Linked DNA regions of Homo sapiens. The protein of the gene in region 1 purifies or fractionates together with the protein of each later gene. This does not show direct contact. Each region holds a gene or a part of one and is shown in the gene's direction. Other genes may lie near its edges.

Region 1 (7,036 bases):
AGAAAAATGGGGCCAGATGTGGTGGCTTATGGCTGTAATCCCAGTGCTTTGGGAGGTCGAGGCAGGAGGATTGCTTCAGCCCAGGAGTCTGAGACCAGCTTGGGTAACAAAGTGAGACCATATCTCTGCAAAAAATTTTAAAAGTGTTAACCGGACTTGGTGGCACATGCCTGTAGTCCCTGCTACATGGGAGGCTGAGACAGGAGGATCGCTTGAGCCCGAGAGTTTTATGTTGCAGTGAACTATGATTGTGCCACTGTGCTCCAGCCTGGGTGATAGAGGACAGAGTGAGAACTTGTCTCAAAAAAAAAAACAGAAAGAGAGAGAGAGAGAGAGGAGAGAGAGAGAGAGGAGAGAGAGAGAGAGAGAGAGAGAGAGAGGGAGAGAGAGAGAGAGAGAGAGAGAGAGAGAGAGAGAGAGAGAAAGAAAAAGAGAAAGAAAGAAAGAAAGAAAGAAAGAAAGAAAGAAAGTTGTTAATGGCTTTTTTTTTTTTTTGAGGTGGTGTCTTGCTCTGCTGCCCAGGCTGGAGGGAGTGCAGTGGCTTGATCTCAGCTCACTGCAACCTCTGCGTCCCGGATTCAAGTGATTCTCCTGTCTCAGCCTCCTGAGTAGCTGAGATTACAGGCATGCACCACCACGCCCAGCTAATTTTTGCATATTTTAGTAGAGACGGGGTTTCACCGTGTTGGCCAGGATGGTCTCGATCTCCTGACCTCGTGATCCGCCCGCCTCGGCCTCCCAAAGTGCTGGGATTACAGGCATGACTGCAGCCGGCCAATGTCTTGGAACTATTAATAGCCATGGTGGTTGCACAACACCACATGTGCTAAATGCCGCTGAATTGTTCACCTTAAAATAATTCATTTTATGTTACATGAAATTTACCTCAATAAAAATTGAATAAAAAAGAAGCTACTCAGGTGCCGAGTAGGCAAAACTTTCACTCTTGCTTTGTATTTCTGGCTGTATCCACAAGTGGGCAGTCGTGAAATTTTCTTATAGCCTCCTGTCATATTGAAAACGCCCGGAAGTGAATATGCCAGGTCTCCATGTTTTTCTTTCCCTCCTGGACACGAGGTCCTTGGGGGCATCCAGACCCTAGCTCCTCTGTCCCAAGACTGTTCTGGTATGTTTCGCTTTCAGACGAGGCTTGGAGATAACAGGCTATGGTTCCTAGAGGCTTCAGTGTTGCTCTGTGACCTCTCAGCCCCAGGGATCCAGCCTCGGGCTGACTTTCCTCAAGGTATCTGCTTAGGGCTTTGTTGCAGGCTGGGGTCGTGTTAACTTCCATTTTTTCCCCGACTTCTCCTCCATGTCACAGCATCCTGCATCTTGGGATCTCTGAGGAGGTCTGACCTAAGGTCTGATCTGCTCTCTGAACTGGTTCCTCTCATCCCTATTGCGTTGAAGCAAAGCACAGACATTATATCAGTTCATCTGTAAATATTTCAGTGTGAACCTGAAATATGGATCATTTTGTTAACATAGCCTAAATACCATACCAAAAATGTTTTAAAACAAGTCCACAATGTTAAATATGCAGTCACTGTCACCTTATTGCCTCACACATGCCATCATTCCTTTTTATTTCTGAAGGAATTCTTTTTTTTTTTTTTGTGAGACAGAGCCTCACCCTGTCACCCAGGTTGGAGTGCAATGGTGAGATCTCGGCTCGCTGCAACCTCTGCCTCCCAGGTTCAAGCGATTCCCCTGCCTCAGCCTCCTCAGTAGCTGGGATTACAGGCATGTGCCACCACGCCCGGCTAGTTTTTGTATTTTTAGTAGAGACGGGGTTTCACCATGTTGGCCAGGCTGGTCTTGAACTCCTGACCTCGTGATCTGCCTGCCTCGGCCTCCCAAAGTGCTGGGATTACAGGCGTGAGCCACCACACCCGGCCCTGAAGGATATTTTTTGCTGGACATAGAATTCTAAGTTGGCACTTAATTTTTGGAAATAATAAGCATTTTGAACAAATCATTCCCTTCTGACTTCCATGGTTTCTGTTGAAAAGGCAGCTGCCAGTCTTCTTGTTGCTCCTCGGATCACAGTTTTGTTTTCCTCAGGCTCCTTTTAAGATCTTTTGTTTTTCTTTGTTGTTTAGTGGTTTTGCTATGATGATGTTTGGCGTGATTTTCTTTCTCTCTTCTTTTTTGTGCCGCTGACTCTCCCCTTGGTGTGATTTTCTTTGCATTCATCCTGCTTGGGCTTCGCATTGCTACTTGGGTTTATGGCTTGATGTCTTTTGTCAGTTTTGGACGTTTTCAGCCATTATATTTTCAAATAGTGACTCTGCCCTAGTCTCTCATTTTTCCCCTTCTAAGGCCCCAGTTACATGTATGTTCAACCTTTCCACTGTATCCCTACATCCTCTGGGTTCCTGTGTGAGCCGTCCTGGCGAATTTCCTCCTGCTTTCGCTTCTGTTTTGTTGGCTCTTCCCCCAGCTCCCCAGGGCCCCTTGCTTTGGCACATTTGCTCAGAGTGAGCTCATCCATCCTGGCCACATGCACCGATTGCACCTGGGCTATTGACCCCTCCTACAGCTGTTTCTCCGTCTCAGACTTTTCCTCCAAGTTGTGGGCCATGATTAGGCTCTAGCTCAATTTGCCAAAAGCAAATTCTCAGAAATGACCAAGAATATACTCTTTCTGGCTGGGCCCAATGGCTCACACCTGTAATCCCAGCACTTTGGGAGGCCGAGGCAGGCGGGTCACCTGAGGTCAGGAGTTGGAGACCAGCCTGGCCAACATGGTGAAACCCTGTCTCTACTAAAAATACAAAAAATTAGCCCGGCATGATGGCGCATACCTGTAGTCCCAGCTACTCAGGAGGCCGAGGCAGGAAAATCACTTGAACCCGGGAGGCGGAGGTTGCAGCAAGCCAAGATCGTGCCACTGCACTCCAGCCTGGGCAAATAGAAGGAGATCCGTCTCAAAAAAAAAAAACAACAACACTATTTTGAAAAAAACAATAAAGTTTAGAACACTTTGTGTTGGAGAGGGTGGTCTTAACACCTTCGGTCTGTCTTGAGGGTGTCTGGGTTGACTGGTCATCGTTTTGTGTTCATAAGAGCATTCTCCAGAGTTGTCCATTTGCTTCTGTGACTGTAGGAGGTGGAGAGAGGGGGGTCCTTGACCAAGGAAGAGAAGGGAGCGCGGCTGCCAGAGGGCCAGGAGATGGGGGCCAGAGAGAAGGGGAGACTGAGAGAATATCCTTATGAAAATATTGTTTACTGACATCTGAAGAGACTCTTCAAGAATGCACTGAAGAATATCTTCATGTATCTTTACCAATACATTGATGAAGATTGACTTCATATTCCTGAGGACAGTTAAAATCTTGAATGTTCTCACAGCTAGATCATTCATGTAAATGGAAAGACAGTAATGAGGAATCTATTTTCGGGGTGACCATCCTGCCGACCCACTCCCCCTCTCTGTGAGCAGTGGCCTAGTCCATGTTGTCCACCGACTCTCTTCTTAACAGGGACCTGGGGCAGAGACAAATGGAATATTCCTTGAAATGCTGCGAGGAACCAGCTTTTGACAAATTGGCTTTCAACAAATGAGCTGTCAGCTTATTCAGTGCCCGGGGGATTTCTCCGTGTGGGTGTTGGTCAAGTCCTTGGAGTGGGACCGAATAGAAGTCGTCACTGTTTTCCCCGTCTCTGTCAGCACCACCGTTTAGACCTCCTGCACCTGAGGCCTGCCGCCACCCTCCTGGGCCTCCTGGGGCGGCAGCCCTGCCAGTCTATGGGTTCCATCACGCTCTGGTGCCTTCTCTCTTCTACGTAAGCGGTGGTGCCAGAGCCCCCTCACTGGCCCCCTGGCCTCTGTCCTTCTGGCCCGTTCTTTGTGGTGCCAAAAGGGGAACTTCATAGAAGTTTTTAAATTATGAAGTATTTCAAGCAAAGGGAAAATGTAAGGATAACATAATTAACAGCCCCAGCTTTCTGAAATCTTAACATTTGCCATATTCACTTCAAATCTTATTTTTTTAGGAAATAAAACTTTAAAATATTCTGTTGAAGCCCTCATTACCCCTTTCCAGCACCATCTCCCTTCCTTGCTATTCTGGCCTTGCTATACTGGCCTCACCATTCTCATTTGGGTGCTTATCTTTTCCATGCATGGTTTTATACTTTTACTACTTATATAATTATATACACAACAGGTAGTGATTGTTTTCTTTTAGAGATAGGGTCTCACTCTGCTGCCCAGGCTGGAGTGCAGTGGCGTGATGGCAGCTCACTGCAGCCTCGAACTCCCGGACTCAAGAGGTCCTCCTGCCTCAGCCTCCAGAGTAGCTGAGACTACAGGCACGTGCCACCACACCCAGATAATTAAAAATTTTTTTTGTAGAGACAGGGTCTCACTGTGTTGCCCAGGCTGGTGTTGAATTCCTCCTGGCCTCAAACAATCCCCTTGCCTTGGCCTCCCAAAGCGCTGGGATTGCAACTGTGAACCACTGCGCCTGGCCTGCTTGTGGTTTTTTAACAGCTCTATTGAGATATAATTTACATATTATAAAATGCACCATTTTAACTACATTTCAATGGTTTTTAGTAAATTTACTGAGTTGCGCAACTATTGCCATGATTCACTTTTCTCTTTTTGTTTAAATAACGGCTCTATTGAGATATAATTCACATCCCATAAAATTCACCAATTTAAAGTGTACAATTCACTGGTTTTTCGTATAGTCACAGAGTTGTTCAACCATCACCACTATCTAATTCCACAATATTCTCTTTTTTTTTTTTTTGAGACGGAGTCTCGCTCTGTCGCCCAGGCTGGAGTGCAGTGGTGTGAACTCTGCTCACCGCAAGCTCCGCCTCCCGGGTTCACGCCATTCTCCTGCCTCCGCCTCCCGAGTAGCTGGGACTACAGGCGTCCGCCACCACGCCCGGCTAATTTTTTTTGTATTTTTAGTACAGACGGGGTTTCACCGTGTCAGCCAGGATGGTCTCGATCTCCTGACCTCATGATCCGCCCGCCTTGGCCTCCCAAAGTGCTGGGATTACAGGCGTGAGCCACCGTGCCCGGTCCTACAATATTTTCACCAGCCCCAAAGCAACCCTGTACTCATTAGCAGCCACTGCCCATCCCCCACCCCCAGCCCCTGGCACCCACTAATCTGCTTTCTGTCTCTATGGATTTGCCTATTCTGGACATTTCGTAACTAATGGAATTGTACTGGAATCTGTGGTCTTTTGTGGCTTTTCAATCCTTATAGTCACCATGTTTCTATAGAGTAACTGCAGGCTAAACTGCAGGCTAGACTTCGTGCTCAACACTGGTCCTGGGGGATTTGCGGAACTGAAGAGCACACACAGATAGTTCACACTGTCATTTCTACAACTTCTAGTCTGTGGCTATTTTTGTAAAGCTGTTACAAAAGAGTAACTACATATAAAATATATATGAATATTGGTGTGCGTGTGGCTGGTGTGTGTTTGGGGTGTTCCCAGGCAGACCTGGAGTGGGAGGCAGGCTTTCCCTAGAGCCTGGGGAGCGGGGAGGAAGGCAGAAGCTGAACCCGAATCTAGTCTAGGTCAGGACCGCTCGCTGTTGGCATGAGCTCTGGATGAGGTACTGAAGGAATCTCACTTTCTCTTTTGCTCCCAAGGCAAGCATTGATGGAAGAACAGGTGAATGGTCGCCTGCAGGGACAGCTGAATGAGATTTACAACCTCAAACACAATCTGGCCTGCAGCGAAGAGAGAATGGCCTATCTATCCTATGAGAGAGCCAAGGAAATATGGGTGAGAACCTCCTGGGGGAGCCTTGCAAGAAGACTGGAGGGATGAGCGAATCTATTCTGATACCCCCAAACCAAAGCAAGACACGGGTCCTCGAGCTGCCCCCTCCTGAGGGTTCGATGGCCACACACATTTGTTTCAGAGCTAGCAGCATCTGATCTTTACACTCACGCTCCGCTTCCCACCATCTGGCTTAGCTGCTTTTGCCACTCTGGTGCTGCAGTGCTCACCCGTGAGCCTCTGACTCGGGAGATCTGGGGTGGAGCTGCTTCTGCTGCGGCTGCAGGTGTAGGGAGCGCCCTCTCAGAACCCCTCCTTAGACCTGGCTTCCCTCTCCTCACTTTTCCATTCCCATAGCGCCCACCCCCGTCCCTGGGTAGCTGTGTCTTGACCAGGTCCTCAGCTTCGGGAGACAGTGGATGGGGGAGTGCAGCCGGGTCAGATGAAGCTTTCCCTGTTGCTGGAGAGCCTGCGCCCTCCCCTCTGCCCTGAATGTGCTCTAGGCTCTCTGCTTCCCTCCTCGAATACCCACTCCACAGTGCTTTCTGCTCACCCCTAAGAACTCAATAAACGACCACAACTCTGTGCTGACTTCTGGTGCGTGCATTTTCGTCTCCTGCAGGAGATCACGGAGACCTTCAAGAGCCGAATATCCAAGCTGGAGATGCTACAGCAAGTCACCCAACTGGAGGCAGCGGAGCACCTCCAAAGCCGTCCCCCGCAGATGTTGTTCAAGTTCCTGAGTCCGCGCCTCTCACTGGCAACCGTCCTCTTGGTCTTTGTCTCCACCTTGTGTGCCTGCCCCTCGTCACTGATCAGCTCACGCCTGTGCACCTGCACCATGCTGATGCTGATCGGGCTTGGGGTCCTGGCCTGGCAGAGGTGGCGCGCCATCCCTGCCACAGACTGGCAGGAATGGGTCCCCTCCAGGTGTAGACTGTACTCCAAGGACTCTGGGCCTCCAGCAGATGGACCTTAAGGGGCCAGGAGGGCCACCTGCCTTAGCTTGCTAGCTCCCTCCCTCCTCCTGGGTGCTGAGGGCATCCAGCAAGCCCCTCCACAGCTCTTGCTTGCCGATTATGTAACCACCAGCCTGGTGAAATGGATATAGACGCCCACCTGCCTCACACTTCTGTTTTGCCAGGATCCTTTCACGCCATCGGTAGACATGAGGCTCGGGAAAACTTAAAGTCTATGAAGCGCTCTCTCCTCTTTATCCCCCTTGCACCCTCTCGAGACCCAGTGCCTGCACACGCAGAGGCTCAGGTGGTCCCAC
Region 2 (7,036 bases), on another chromosome or scaffold:
GTGAGAGGAGAGAAGATGAGAAGTCCAAGGTTTTTGGCTTGAGCAACTAGAAGCATGGAGTTAACCATTTCCTGAGATGTGGAAGAATGTGGGATGATCAGGTTTAGGGGAGTTTGGTTTTGTTTATCTTGTTTGAGACCTGCCGTGATTTTGATTTATGAGTCTGGAGTTCAGGGAGCTCCTGTGTCCCTTGACTGATCTAACTAGTGGGGCGTGGGTATTAGAATTTTGTTCTTGGACCTTAAGAATCTCTAGGGAAGAAAGATGCTATAGGATTATGGTAATGCTATTCCATCTTAAAACTTTCAGTAATATTTATCATACCTGATCACCTGTTATGCTTCAAGTACTCAGCCAGATAATAAATTATATCTAAGCTTCACAACAAATTTCAAGGTTGATAATATTTTAATTTTGTAGGTGAGGAAACTTCTACACAGGTAAATTAAATGCCTTGGCCAAAGTCACAGCCAGTTAGTGACACCAACTTAGTTCAGTGTTCTTTGCATTATTGCAACTCTGTTACAATAAATTCAATTTATTATTTCTGTTATTTAGTTGATTAATACAGTCTGATTTTTCTAAACCATTGAACATTTTCATTGTCTTATTTTTTATGTATGAGGAGGTAGTAGTTTGTGTTTAATGTAGCATGGTTTATTTGAATATAGTTCTTGGAAATTTTAGATCTGTAGCCCATGTGGAATTAAATTTTTATATAGCTTTAGGTGGATTTTCTTGTGGCTGCATAGTCAATTATGCCAGTGCTATTTATTAAAGAAGACATCTTTTATCCACTAAATTAAAAAGACCACTTCATCTTACTGAATTCCCAAATGTATCTTGATTTATTTCTGATCTTTCTTTTGTTTCACAATTTCCTTGTCTCTGTTCCAATTCCCTACTATTTTGATTATAATCTTTTTTTTTTTTTTTTTTTTTGAGATGGAGTTTCACTCTTGTCGCCCAGGCTGGAGTGCAGTGGTAGCAATATCAGCTCACTGCAACCTCCACCTCCTGGATTCAAGTGATTCTCCTGCCTCAGCCTCCCAAGTAGCTGGGACTACGGGCGTATGCCACCACGTCCAGCTAATTTTTGTATTATTAGTAGAGATGGGGTTTCACCATGTTGTCCAGGCTGATCTCGAACTCCTGACCTTAGGTGATCTGCCCTCCTTGGCCTCCCAAAGTGCTGGGGTTACAGACGTGAGCCACCGTGCCTGGCTGATGATAATAATTTTATAGTAACCTTTACTATCTGGTAACCTATGTGTTCTTTTTCAAAAAAAAATTGTCCACAGGACCTTTAACATAATTTCTTTCCCCAAAAAACCCTATTGGGTTCCTGGTTGGAAGTATATTTAGGTCTCTCTCTCTATATATATTTTTTATATAGATAGGGTATTGACCTTAAGTTTATTAGATTGATTAGATTCATATTAAATACTTGTGGGAAATACATCATAGGAGATGTTGTAACATCAGTTTGTTCCACCATTAGCAAAGCGATGGTTGGCAAACCCAGCCAGACTTTTTCCTTTAGAGTTTTTGAATATATTTCTCCATTTTCTTTTTCTATCCTGTTGAGATACCTGAAGCTTTTCTAAGTCTTATCTTTTCTATATGGCTTGTTTTCTCCCTATTCTTCTGGCAATTTGTAGAATCTTTTTTTGTCTTCAGTGTTCTAAAATTTACTTTTCGTGTGCCTTTGTGTGGTCTGTTTCTCAGGCCTGGGTATTTGTTGGGCCCTTTCAGTATGACAACTCAAGTCCTTCAGTGTGGGAACTTTTCTTGAATTACAGCCTGGAGTTTGTCTAATCAGATTCCCTTGTTCATTCTTTCAGAAGCCCTTGTTGGATTTTTGGACTTTCTGAACTGGTCCTGAACTGGTAATTTTCTTTCTTTCTTTTTTTTTTTTTTCCTCCTACTGTCTTTTTTCTTTCTTTCTTTTTTTTTTTTTTGAGACGGAGTCTAGCTCTGTCCCCCAGGCTGGAGTGCAGTGGCACCATCTCGGCTCGCTGCAACCTCTGCTTCCCGGGTTCAAGCGATTCTCCTGTCTCATCTTCCTGAGTAGCTGGGATTACAGGTGCCCGCCACCATGCCTGGCTAATTTTTGTATTTTTAGTAGAGACGGGGTTTCACCATATTTGCCAGACTGGTCTCGAACTCCTGACCTTGTGATCTGCCTGCCTCGGCCACCCAAAGTGCTGGGATTACACACGTGAGCCACTGTGCCCAGCCTTTCTCTCCTACTTTCTATCTTTTTGCTCTACTTTCTTTTTTCTTTTTCCTTTTTTTTTCAGATGGAGCCTTGCTCTATCGCCAGGCTGGAGTGCAGTGGCACAATCTTGGCTCACTGCAACCTCTGCTTCCTGGGTTTAAGCAATTCTCCTGCCTCAGCCCCCCGAGTAGCTGGGACTACAGGCACGCGCCACCATCCCCAGCTAATTTTTGTATTTTTAGTAGAGCCGGGGTTTCACCGTGTTCGCCAGGATGGTCTTGATCTCTTGACCTCGTGATCCACCTGCCTCGGCCTCCCAAAGTGCTAGGATTACAGGCATGAGCCACCACGCCCGGCCTCTTTTTGCTCTACTTTCTAGAAGATTTTCTTTTAACAGTTCTGTCGTATGTATGTATTTATTTATTTATGTTTTGTGACAGGGTCTCACTCTATCACCCAGGCTGGAGTGCATGGCTCACTGCAGCCTCGACCTCCCCAGGCTCAGGTGATTCTCCCACCTCAGCCTTCTAAGTAGCTGGGACTGCAGGTGTGTGCCACCATACCTGGCTAATGTTATAATTTTTTTTGTAGAGACAGGGTTTTGCCATGTTGCTTAGGCTGGTCTTAAACTCTTGGGCTCAAGTGATCTGCTTGCCTTGGCCTCCCAAAGTGCTGGGATTACAGGCATGAGCCACTGCACCTGGCAGTTCTGTTGTTTTTAATCTTGGCTGTCCTGTTTTTAATTTCCAAAAGCTCTTGTTTTTTCTCTGAGTATCCCTTTTAAAAATGATTGTTTTATTAACGCAGTCTTTTTCTCTTATCTCTCTGAGGATATTACAGTGTTTTTAAAAAAGTTTTCTTCTTGTGCGTCATCTCTTTTTTCCTCCTGCTTCCTTTTGTTGTTGTTTTGTCCTGGTTGCTGTATTTCATGTTAGGGGCTGTTTTGTCTGTTTAATGTTACTGTAACACAATACCACAGACTGGGAAATTTATTAAAAAACTGAATTCATTTCTCACAGTTCTGGAGGCTGAGAAGTTCAATATTAAGGTGCTAGCATCTGGTGAGGGCCTTCTTGCTGTGTCATCCCATGGTGGAAGGCAGAAGGGAGAGAGTGAGAGAGGGGAAAGGGGCCTAACTCATCCTTTTATCAGGAGTCCACTCCTGCGATAACTAACCCAGTCCTGCAAGAACAGCATTAATCTATTCATGAGGGCAGAGCCCTCTTAAAGATTCCATCTTTCAACACTGTTGCATTGGGGATTAAGTTTCCAACATGTGAACTTTGGGGGACACATTCAAACCATAGCAGGGACTTTCCTCATATTTTTAGTAATCCTTGGCTCCCTGCTCATGGTTAATTCTGGGGAACCAAAAAGCTCATTGGAAGCTATCAGTGTGCAGTTGCACTTTTGATTTTGAACTTCACAACAGGGTGACCTAGGTTGCTCTTTTTTGGAGGAAGTTCCTGATGTCAGTGTATTTAGGTACTTCTTCTTGGTTAGATTACCAAGGGAATAGTCATCCAGTCTCCCACAGAGGACAAGGGGATGGCTGTTAGCATTTTGTGCACCATGTGGGGAAGGAGAACTGTGCTTTCAGCAGTCAGAGTGCACACAGTCACTTGGGTTCCCTGTTTGGTTGTTTTTGTCCCCATGCCCTTTACTATGCCAGATGGTCCCCAATGCAAATCCCTTCAGTTTTATCCTCTCCAGAGAATACATCTCCAGACAGTTTCCTTAGTGGGGAAGAGGGAGTTAGAACAGTGTGGAGTTGGGGAGAGGATCTGGGAATATGGCTTCCTCTCAAGTAGCTTTCACCCTGTAGTGTGTATTCCAGGCATCTCCCATTCCAGAGCTGCCATTTCCCGTTTTTTGTTTTTTTTTTTTTGTTTTTTTTTAGGGATTCTGTTATGTACATCAGGTTGATTCTCAGTTTCCCCCTTTGCTGTTCTGGCATTTGTCTTTCACTTAGGTCTAGTCATCTACCACTAGTCCATTTACTTTCTCCTTCCAAAATTCTGCTGTCATCTCCTCTTTCGTTTTACCTGACCACAGTCATTCACATCATCAAAACAATGTATTTATTATAGTTTTAGTAGAATTTTGGGAGGCTGCAAATTCTGCTAATCTGACAGGTTGAATATAGGGAATTGGGTACTCACAAAATGGTAGAAAGCGATGCCTATTACATCTGCCACATTGAAAAATAGATTGTTCATGTCAAGCTTCATGACAGCCAGGAAGCTGATTAGAGGATACTATCAGTTTGAAAACTCATGGTCTCCATGCCTGTGTTTACTAGCTGAAGGACAGAGCACTGTATAAGTCTAGGGTCTGCTTTCCAGATTTTGCTCGAGTCCCTCTGGTTGGCAGAACTGAAATTGCTTTTGGCAACTATAGCTGCAAGAGGTTTTGGGATTCCTTTTGCTTTGCAGGAAGGCATACCTGTTTGAGGGTGAAGTGGATGTTGACTGAGCCAATCCACAGCATCTTCCATCAATAATCCACAACATGATAAATAGGAAGACTTTGTCCTTATTTTCCAATAATGCATAGAAATTCATTTTTTTTTTTTTTTTGAGATGGAGTTTCATTCTTGTTGCCTAGGCTGGAGTGCAATGGTGTGATCTTGGCTCACTGCAACCTCCTCCTCCCAGGTTCAAGCGATTCTCCTGCCTCACCCTCCCAAGTAGCTGGGATTACAGGCATGTGCCACCACTCCCGGCTAATTTTGTATATTTAGTAGAGATGGGGTTTCGCCGTGTTGGCTAGGCTGGTCTCGAACTCCTGAGCTCAGGTGATCCACGTGCCTCGGCCTCCCAAAGTGCTGGGATTACAGGTGTGAGCCACCACACCCAACCTAAAAATTTCATTTTTGCACATGAATGCCAGACATAATTTTATTGTTTTGACTCCTCCTTTCAAAGTCTCTTGTCAGTATGTTTTAAATTTTTTAGTTTGTGAAATAGTTTAAATAGTTTTGATTTTTAAAATTATGAAATACCTAAAGTATTTAAACATACAGAAGTGTACAATGAACCTACACATAGTCATCACCCAGTTTTATTGAATCTTTATATTTTGCCATATTTGCTACAAATCCCCCACTCCCAGTAATAAAACATTAGGAATAGAGCTAAAATCTCTTTTCTTTCTCTCTCCCTAGACTAGATACTTATTTGAATTTGGTGTTAAATCCTTCCCATACATGTTTTCATGTTGTTATTATATACATATATAGACATTAACAGTATGTAGTACTGTTTTGCCTTTTTTAAAGGTTTATGTAAAGCTGTCATACAAAACATTCTGCAACTTGTATTTTGTTTAAAATGTTTTTGCCATCTATCTAGTTTGATACATGAATTCTAGTTCACTCATTTTAACTGCTATGTAATATTCCACTGTAATAGGTCAGAATGTGTTAATTTCTTCACCTGTTGATGGACATTTAAAGCATTAAATGTGCTTCAGGAACATGCTTATATTCTTGCCATTTTAATTAACCACTATTATTATTACACAGTAGTACAATGTTTCAGGTTAATGAACTTTTTGTTCTTTTGATTTAGCAAAAATGATGTACAACTTGTGCTGTAGAAGCATCTGGCCTGAAATGCAGGGAGATCTTAAAAGTGTGACCTGAATTTTGTTCAGAAGGCCTGAATGTTGTTGGGATAGTTTTGAGAAATAGATTCATCCTCTCTTAGCCATCCTCAGAAGGCAAGAAAGGCATTTCCTATGACGAGAGTTTCGTTAGGATGAACCTTTCTTTCTCTGACACGATACTTACTTTGTGTTCCTCTGTTTTCTTGCTGTTTCAGACAGAATGTTGCTGCGGGATGTAAAAGCTCTTACCCTCCACTATGACCGCTATACCACCTCCCGCAGGCTGGATCCCATCCCACAGTTGAAATGTGTTGGAGGCACAGCTGGTTGTGATTCTTATACCCCAAAAGTCATACAGTGTCAGAACAAAGGCTGGGATGGGTATGATGTACAGGTAATATCCACTACAGTAATGGCAGTCTAAATGGGGTTTTTATTCAGTAAATTGTTTATTGGGACATTATTCAGTCTTTTGAGGGTGCACCTACGGAAATCTCAGATCAGCCTAAAATATGTAAGTAAATCAATCACTCTTCCTGTGGAAGAAATGGCCTCCAAAAGAAATGAACTGATTTTAAAGCCTGAAAATACTCATTTTAGTTTTTGTATCGTGACCTCCTTCTAAGATATTTGTAAATTTTCACAACTTTTTATATACTTGAGGGTGAGGGATAGGGGATATCTTATGGTTGTCATTTTCCTGTCGTTCCTCAAAGAATACCAACCTACCCTTAAGACAAAGTTAAGATAATTAGGAATTATAGATCGTAAATAGTAGGGGTTCATATATCTCTATTGTGCTTCTAGCACTTGATTTTAAAATTGTCTTAGAACTGAGGGTGGTTACTTTTGAAAGGAAGCATTTCGGCAGGTTTCATTGATTGCCTTTGGGACGCTGGTGTTTTGTATACGAGCAGAGCATCTCCTTGAAGTTCCAAAACTGAATATGCTTTAGAGATAGATTTTATTAAATGAATTCAGTTTAAATCACTAGTTACATATTTCTACTTTGTATTCTGACTGCTTTCAAAATTGATTTAAGACGACTGGTCACAAGGCAAGAAACTTATGTTGACGATTTCCCCTCTCCATCAGAATGATATTCTTGTTTGATACAACCTTTATGCGTGGTCTTTGCAATTCAGAGAGGAAGTTGATGTGTACTGGGTGATACTTACTTCACAATATTTTCCCCCAGTACTGCTA

What was found. The genes of interacting proteins can lie anywhere in the genome.
Region 2: the proteins of TEX28 (region 1) and SARAF purify together in Homo sapiens (co-immunoprecipitation; 3 studies listed by BioGRID and IntAct, with this or other methods). This does not show direct contact.

Annotation. Positions count from the first base shown.
Region 1 is NC_000023.11:154,271,118-154,278,153, reverse strand, and holds the end of TEX28 (testis-specific protein TEX28), read left to right. Parts: intron 1-5,627; coding exon 5,628-5,763; intron 5,764-6,382; coding exon 6,383-6,739; 3' UTR 6,740-6,889; downstream 6,890-7,036.
Region 2 is NC_000008.11:30,073,065-30,080,100, reverse strand, and holds part of SARAF (store-operated calcium entry-associated regulatory factor isoform 1 precursor), read left to right. Parts: intron 1-6,045; coding exon 6,046-6,224; intron 6,225-7,036. UniProt on the Homo sapiens protein: Negative regulator of store-operated Ca(2+) entry (SOCE) involved in protecting cells from Ca(2+) overfilling.